2 separate regions of the Homo sapiens genome follow, and region 1 is linked to region 2. Evidence: fine-mapped expression QTL. A gene starts in region 2. The other region holds a variant in brackets. All regions are shown on one strand. Distances are between the middles of the regions.

Region 1 (4,397 bases), 210 kb after region 2:
TAGAGACAGAGTATCACTATGTTGCCCAGGCTGGTCTGGAACTCCTGGCTTCAAGCAGTTCTCCCACCTTGACCTATCAAAATGCTGGGATTACAGGCGTGAGCGATTGTGCCCAGCTCAGCTCATTCCTTTTTTATTGCTGAATAGTGGTCCATTATATGGATATACTACATTTTAGTTAATGATAGACATTTGGATTGTTTTCATTTAATGTATAAGTAACATGCTATAAATACTCATGTACAAGTTTTTGTATGGATATGTTTTTGTATTTCTTGGGTATATTATGCATATATGAGTGGAAGTGCTAGGTCATAGGATAACTCTGCATTTATTTAGCATTTTAAGAAACTACCAAGCTTTGATTCAAAGTGGCTGCACCATTTTACATTCACACCAGCAGTGCATGTGGGTTCTAATTTCTCTACATCCAGAATCTGTGTTTTTTATCTTTAACCATTTAGTTCCTAGCATATAAATATTTCTTAAAAGTAAATGTTTAAATTTAAAGAATGAAGTCAATAGGAAAATAAACAAATGAACTGAGGTCAGATTAGTTTGTTGGGTCTTTTTTTTTTTTTTTTTTTTTTTTTGAGACAGGGTCACACTCTGTAACCCAGGCTGGAGTGCAGTGGCACCATCACAGCTCACTATAGCCTTGACTTGGCCTGGGCTCACTGATTCTCCCACCTCAGCTTCCCGAGTAGCTGAGACTACAGGCGCAAGCCACCATGCCTGGGTAATTTTTATATTTTTATATTTTTATATTATATTTTACCATGTTATCGAAGCTGAGCTTGAACTCCTGGATTCAAGCGATCTGCCCCTCAGCCTCCCAAAATACTGGGATTACAGGGGTGTGCCACCACGCCTAGCCTGAAGCCCAGATTTGTATCATTTGCCTGTTTCTGTGGTATAAATACTCCCACCACCATGACATAACAAGATAAGGTGGTGGAGTATACATATATATAGGGGAGAGTTATGGAAGATTTTCTCCCCGTGGCAGAGTAATTATCTGGAGCCATATTACATATACAATGGGGAAGTGATAAAAGACCTCACAGTTTTTTAAAGCTTTATGTCTAAAAGCAGGGTGAAAACATTTTACAGTTGTTCAACATTTTGCATTCTCATTAGTAGAGGAAGACTGCCTTTTTTCTTTTTTGAAAAAATACTTCAGTGATACTTTTGTGCCCCTTTCCCACAGCTTGCCCACAAAAAATGACAAAATTCAAGAATGAAGTTTGGGGGAATAAGAGGCTAAACTGTTTTCAAATTAGTGTAACACTTTGCCTTCATTGTGGGCAGAATTGCACCTATCTGAATTTATGATGGTGTGATCTGGGTTTTCAGTAAATTACTTAAAAAAAAAATTTTCCCTCTCACTGAGCCCAGAGAATGAAATGGAGTATGACCCCAGGTTAGGAGGAATTTCCATCAGACATTCCTAAAAGGACAAGAAAAGATGTCAGGTTGGGGCCAAGGAGAGAGATCACCAATCCAAGTCCCCCAGGGAGGGGCTTGGCCCCTGGGCTCCAGGAACACACATATCTGTAACATCCAAATGTATTTTCTTTCCCATATCGTCATTCCCTTTGTTTAACTCAAGTCTAGATAAAACTAGAGCCTGAACTTGGCGGTGCTTTGGGTAAGTAAAAGAAGGACCTGGTTCTCCACTGGCCTGAGGCAGCACAGAGAAGACAAAAGCGGTCCAGAGAAGGCAGATAAAGGATGGCAAGAAGTCACCAGTCAACACCAGAGTCTCTTGGGGCAGCACCTGGCTGGGTCACAAGTGACTACCAATGACAACACGTAAACATTCCTCATAATTCCCCAACACACTGGGGAGAGGAACCAGGAGAAAGGCTATACTTCCTAGAGGCACAAACACACCATGCAGAACAGACTATTCTCACTCATGCTTAAGGGAACTCTGACTCTTGAACCCAGACATTTAAGATCCCAAGTTCCATGTACCTGCTCATTCATTCCTGCCTCCATTAAAACTCATCCTTCCCTGCCACAGTCTATCCTAAAGGGGTTCAGCCTTATTTGGCTGGAGTTTGGGGTTTATGAACATTCAAAATTTACTTAATGAGCTTTATAAAATTAACAATATTGTATCTGAACAAGATTTTGGATTGTGCAGTGGCTATGGACTGGCAAAAAGCATCCTACCTGGCTGGGC[A/G]CAGTGGCTAATGCTTGTAACCCCAGCACTTTGGGAGGCCAAGGTGGAAGAATCACCTGAGGCCAGGAGTTCAAGACTAGTCTGGGTAACAGAGACCTCCATCTCTAAAAATAAAAATAAAAATACTTAGCACAAGAGGCTGAAGTAGGAGGGTTGCTTGAGCCCAGGAATTTCAGGGCTATGATTGTGCCATTGCACTCCAGCCTGGGCAGTAGAATGAGACCTCATCTCTCTTTTTTAAGAAAATTTTCTCCAAAGCAGTTTATTAATTTTTTTAATTCTAATTTTTGTGGGTACATAGTAGGTATATATATTTATGGGGTACATAAGATGGTTTTATACAGGCGTGTAATGCATAATAATCTCATTATGGAGAACGGGGTATCTGTCCCCTCAAGCATTTATCCTTAGTGTTATAAACAATCCAGTTATACTCGTTTAGTTATTTTAAAATGTACAATTAAATTATTACTGACTATAGTCACCCTGTTGTGCTATCAAATAGTAGGCCTTATTCATTCTTTATTTTTTTTTGTACCCATTAACCATCCCTACCTCCCCCTACCCTCAACTACCCTTCCCAGCCTCTGGTAGCCATCCTTCTATTTTCTATCTCCATGAGTTCAGTTGTTTTAACTTTTAGATCCCACAAATAAGTGAGAACATATGATGTTTGTCTTCTGTGCCTGGCTTATTTTACTTAACATAATGATCTCCAGTTCCATCCATGTTATTGCAAATGATAGGATCTCATTCCTTTTTATGGCCGAATAATACTCTGTTGTGTACATGTACTGCAGCCTCAACTTCTGGGGCCCAGGTGATTCTCCCACCTCAGCCTCCAGAGTAGCTAGGACTATAGGTATATGCCACCACTCCTGGCTAATTTTTTGTATTTTTTATAGAGACACGGTTTTGCCATGTTTCCCAGGCTGGTCTCAAACTCATGTGCTCAAGCAGTTCACCCACCTCAGTCTCCCAAAGTGCTGGGATTACAGGCATGAGCCACCGCACCCAGCCCACATTTTCTTTATCTATTTGTCTGTTGATGGACACTTAGGTTGCCTCCAAATCTTGGCTGTTGTGAACAGTGTTGCTACAAATATGGGAGTGCAGCAGATATCTCTTCAATATACTGATTTCTTTCCTTACCCAGCAGTGAGATTGCTGAGTCATATGGTAGCTCTAGTTTTAGTTCCATAGTGGTTGTACTAATTTACATTCCCACCAAAAGTGTAGAAGGGCTCCCTTTTCTCCACATCCTCGCCAGCATTTGTTATTACCTGTCTTTTGGATATAAGCCATTTTAACTGGGGTGAGATGATATCACATTGTAGTTTTGATTTGCATTTCTCTGATGATTAGTGAACAGTCACCTTTTCATATGCATGTTTGCCATTTGTGTGTCTTTTTTTGAGAAATGTCTATTCAAATCTTTTGCCTATTTGATCAGATTAGATTTTTTCCTATGGAGTTGTTTGAGTTTCTTTTTTTTGAGATGGAGTCTTGCTCTGTCACCCAGGCTGGAGTGCAGTGGCACAATCTCGGCTCACTGCAAACTCCGCCTGCCAGTTCACGCCATTCTTCTGCCTCAGCCTCCTGAGTAGCTGAGACTACAGGCGCCCGTCACCACGCCTGGCTAAATTTTTGTATTTTTAGTAGAGACAGGGTTTCACCGTGTTAGCCAGGATGGTCTCGATCTCCTGACCTCGTGATCCGCCCGCCTCGGCCTCCCAAAGTGCTGGGATTACAGGTGTGAGCCACTGCACCCGGCTTGAGTTTCTTATATACTCTGGTTATTAATGCTTTGTTAGATGGATAGTTTGCAGATGTTTTCTTATATTCTGTGGGTTGTCTCTTCACTTTGTTGATTGTTTCCTTTGCTATGCAGAAGCCTTTTCACTTGATGTGAGCCCATTTGTCCATTTTTACTTTGGTTGCCTGTGTTTGTAGGGTATTACCCAAGAAGTTTTTGCCCAGAGCAATGTCCTGGAGATTTTTCCCCATGTTTTCTTGTAGTTGTTTCATAGTTTAATGTCTTAGATTTAAGTGTTAATCCATTTTGATTTGATTTTTGTATATAGCAAGAGATAGGGGTCTAATTTCAGTCTTCTGCATATGGATATCCAGTTTTCCCAGCACCATCTATTGAAGAGACTGTCTTTTCCTGTTCTTGGCACCTTTGTCAAAAATGAGTTCACTCAGT
Region 2 (4,397 bases):
CTGCACTCCAGCCTGGGCGACAGAGCGAGACTCCCTCTCAAAAAAAACAAAAAACAAAAAAGCAAAAAATTAGGTGGGTATGGTGGCACATGCCTGTAATCTCAGCTACTTGGGAGGCTGGGGTGGGAGGCTGAGGTAGTCCCAGCTACTTGGGAGGCTTGAGCCCAGGAGGTCGAGGCTACAGTGAGTGAGTTGTGATCACACCACTGCACTCCAGCCGGGGTGACAGAGTGAGACCCTGTCTCAAAGAAAAAGAAGACCATACTGTGTGCCACTGTGCCCTGGCACTAAAAATACTTTACAAAATAAGGAAATATAGTCTCTGATAAAGCGATTTAGTGGTAGAGAAAAACAATAAGCAAAAAAATACATATAACTTGAGTATTGTGATGGAAAAGTATACTGACAAATAAATGGGGGCGGAATAGAGGCAAATCTACTTTAGGTAGATAAGAGTGGTCAGGGAAGAACTTTCTGGGGAGACGACATTTAAATTAAGAACTGAAGTACAAGAGCCAACCACGAAAAGACAAAGATAGAGGATGGGAATGCGGGGAAATCCATCCAGGCAGTGGGAAGGGCAAAAGGCCTAAAAGCAATGAAAGAGAAAGTAAAGGCAGATCTGGAAGAGCATAATAAAAAAGGGGAATGACTCAAGAAGGTCTTGTCATATCAGACAGAAAGAATATTGGATTCGATTCCAAGCTCAATGGTAAACCACTGAAGGGCTTTAAACTAGGGAATGACATAATTCAAGACACCCATTCTGGGCTGGGCGCAGCAGCTCACGCCTGTAATCCCAGCACTTTGGGAGGGCGAGGTGGGCAGATCACTGGAGGTCTGGGGTTCGAGACCAGCCTGGCCAACATGGCAAAACCAAGTCTCTACTAAAAATACAAAAATTAGTTGGGCGTGGTGACGGGCGCTTGTATCCCAGCTACTCAGGAGGCTGAGGCAAGAGAATCACTTAAACCCAGGAGGCGGAGGCTGCAGTGAGCTGAGATCTCGCCACTGCACTCCAACCTGAACAACAGAAGGTGACTCCATCTCAAAAAAAAAAAAAGATATTCACTCTGATATGAAATGGCAACTAAGGAAGGCTGTCCGACTGATTTCAGGTGTGCTCTATTCCAGCCCACTCTGGCCAACTCTAAGGCCAGAGCTCAGATGTAGCAGGTGCTTGCTTTTCTAGATGCAAGGAGACTGGGGGTAGCCTGCAGGGTCCCCCTCTGGGGGTCAAGGTCTGGCTGGTTCTGCCAGATTTAACCTCTCTGGGCCTCAGATTCTTCAGGCAGAGGACTGACAATACTTCAAAGGGTCAAGGAAACGGGCGAATGCACGGAAGAGTTGAGGCACAGAAAAGTCTTCAAGCTTATAAGGAGCCTGTTGGGGGTCAGCTAGATCTCTCTAGTCCGCAGAGGGGACCGTCCCTCTGCCCGAGGCGGCGGAGCTTCCCCTGCCGGGTCCAGATACCCCAAGGCAGTTTCCAATCGCCCCCGTCCCCAGGAAGGTCGGTGATGGGGAGTGAAGAAGTAAGCGGCTTCTCAAATAATAGCAGTTGCCAAACGCTTACCGGGAAAATCTTTTAATCCCGACTACAATCCTAAGAGGTGAAAGTCTTGGTCCCCACTTTAGAGGCTACGAAAGCGGAAGGCCACCTGAGTTTTCCACAGCACCAGCGGGTCGGAGTGCGAGCTCGGACTCGGGTCCTTCGGCTTCGAGGCCGCATTAGGCCACTCGCGACCCCCCACGCCGGCAGCTCGAGGCTCGGACTCTAGGCCCAGGCCGGCACTGAGCCCAGCTCCGCCCGGGACGCGGTGGTCACAGCGGCGCTGCGAACGACGCCCGCTTCCCGGCTCACCAGACCAACCTAGGCCGCGAAGGGGGCGGCGTCGCCGGGGGCTGCCAAGGCGCCGGTTCCCTGAGGAGAAAGCGCGGCCTCCTCCAGGTGCCTGAGATGCCGCCGCGCGGGCATCCTCTCCTCACAGCCGCGACCCCGGGCCCAGAGACCCCTCGCCCACACACCCCTCCCTTGGGATGCTGGACCCTTCCTAAACTGGAGGCCACAGGGGATCTCCAGCCGCGTGCCGCCGCTACACCTCACCAGGGACGAGAGGAGAAACGCTGAGTTGACACACTAGCTGCAGACACGGAGCCTCCTCTGTCAGACCCCGCACTGAACAACGGCCCTCAGAGCTGCCTCACCACTTCCGCCCATCGCGGAGGAGCGCGCCCATTGGCCAGGGGCGGCTCCAGCTGTCGGCCCATTGGATAACACCGTTGTCGCTCCCAGGGCCCCGCCTTCTGCGCGTCGATTGGCTCCCTGGAGGCCCACGGGGGCGTGTCCCTGGAAGCCCTGGCCCCTGCACATCTGGAACCAGAGGCACGAAGCTGAGCTGTGAGCCTGTTGCTGAGTTTAGCAACTGTCCCCGACACAGGCTAATAATATTTGCATGAATAATTCTGTACAAACATTACTAATATGCTTAATATATTGAGATAATTAATGGTATTTGTTCTTTTCTCATGGGCCGTTAATACTTATTAGTCATTCTTATTGCTATGATAATGCCCTTGTGCAAGACTTCTGCAGATCTGTGACCATATTTTTTGAGCACTTTGCTTTTTTGCAGTGGAAGAATGAGAGCCTGAGATGCAGGTTTGAGAGCTAGTTTCTCCACTTGCTGCCTGAATGGATTCCCTGAGCTTCTCTTACCTCATGTATAATAAAGGAGAGAATAATTATATAAGTATAACCAAGCACATATTACAAACCAACTTATAATTATATAAGTATAACCAAGCACATATTACAAACAATACAGCAATTTAAAATTATGATTCCATTGCAGATTATAATTGCAAAATATGGAGGCCAAGGCGGGTGGATCTCTTGAGCTCAGGAATTAGAGACCAGCCTGGGCAATATAATGAAACCATATCTCTACAAAAAAAATACAAAAATTAGCCAGGCGTGGTGGCACGCACCTGTAGTTCCACCTCCTTGGGAGGCTGAGGTGGAAGGATCCCTCGAGCCCAGGAGGCAGGGCTGGAGTGAGCCCTGATCATGCTACCGCACTCCAGCCTGGGGGACAGAGAAAGACCCCGTCTCAAAAATAATATAATATAATATAATATAATATAATATAATATAATATAATATAATTGCAAAATGTTAATGAGATAGTACTAAGCAAGAAAAGCATCTAACAGGCTGGGCGCGGTGGCTCACGCCTGTAATGCCAACACTTTGGGAGGCAGAGGCTGGTGGATCACCTGAGGTCAGGAGTTCAAGACCAGCCTGGCCAACATGGTGAAACACCGTTTCTACTAAAAATACAAAAATTAGCTGGCCGTGGTGGCAGGCGCCTATGATCCCAGCTACTTGGGAGGCTGAGACAGGAGAATCGCTTGAACCCAGGAGGTGAAGGTTGCAGTGAGCCGAGATTGAGCCACTGCACTCCAGCCTGGGCAACAAAATCAAAACTCCGTCTCAAAGCAATATTTATAACAAGATAAAATATTTAGCTTAAATATGCAATATAACTTGTGTGATTCCAAACATATAAAGTTTAAAACCAGGGAAAATTAACCTAAAGTGAGAGAAGTAAGTAACTGGTTCCATTCAGAGGGTATATAGCCTGTAAGGAGATATGAGAAAGATTTTCTAGAAATGTTTATATCTTGATCAGCAAAGTGATTAACACAGATGGATTAATTAGTAAATAGTTATTAAGCTACACACCTATATCTTAAGCACTTTACATTGTATGTTACATTTTAATAACAAAACTTACTGGAGTTCAAAAGAAAGCACAATCATTAACAGTTAAAAAGCAATCAGAAAAAATGTGTATTAATATGAATTAAGTATATTAATGTATTAAGTATATATAAAGAAAAAAGATAACCATATAGTGTGTTCTTTTATGAATAAGGTGTTTTAACTCAGCATAATGTTTTTGAGGTTTATCCATGCTGTTGATAATATCAAGTCTATTCCTTTTCAGTGCCAAGTAGCATAGCACATGGATATGCCACAATTTATACTGACAAACATTAGAGCTGGTTCTAGTTTTTGGCCAGGCATGGTGGCTCACGCCCACAATCCCAGCACTTCGGCAGGTCAAGGTGGGTGGATCGCCTGAGCTCAGGAGTTCCAGACCAGCCTGGGCAACATAACAAAACCCTGTCTCTACAAAAAATACAAAAATGTAGCCAGGCGTGGTGGCTCATGCGTGTAGTCCCAGCTACTTGGGAGGCTAAGGTGAGAAGATTGCTTGAGCCTGGGAGGCAGAGGTTTCAGCGAGCTGATATGGCACCACTGCACTCCAGCCTGGGTGACAGAGCAAGACTCCATCTCAAAAAAAAAAATTGATTCTAGTTTAAGCAGTAGT

What was found. PIP is the estimated chance that this variant, and not a neighbour inherited with it, causes the effect.
Region 1: its variant is the best candidate, but not a certain one, in a credible set for the expression of TRAFD1 in whole blood (INTERVAL, PIP 0.52).

The regions. Positions count from the first base shown.
Region 1 is chr12:111,909,752-111,914,148 of GRCh38, reverse strand. No RefSeq gene overlaps it. Among named protein-coding and RNA genes, the nearest start is that of MAPKAPK5-AS1, 69 kb to the right of the region's middle. The variant A/G (reference allele first, on the strand shown) is at 2,192.
Region 2 is chr12:112,123,326-112,127,722 of GRCh38, reverse strand. TRAFD1 (TRAF-type zinc finger domain containing 1) reads right to left here and starts at 2,163. Exons shown (of 12, transcript NM_006700.3): 1 at 2,105-2,163. RefSeq lists enhancers at 1,637-1,706, 2,117-2,166, 2,144-2,438.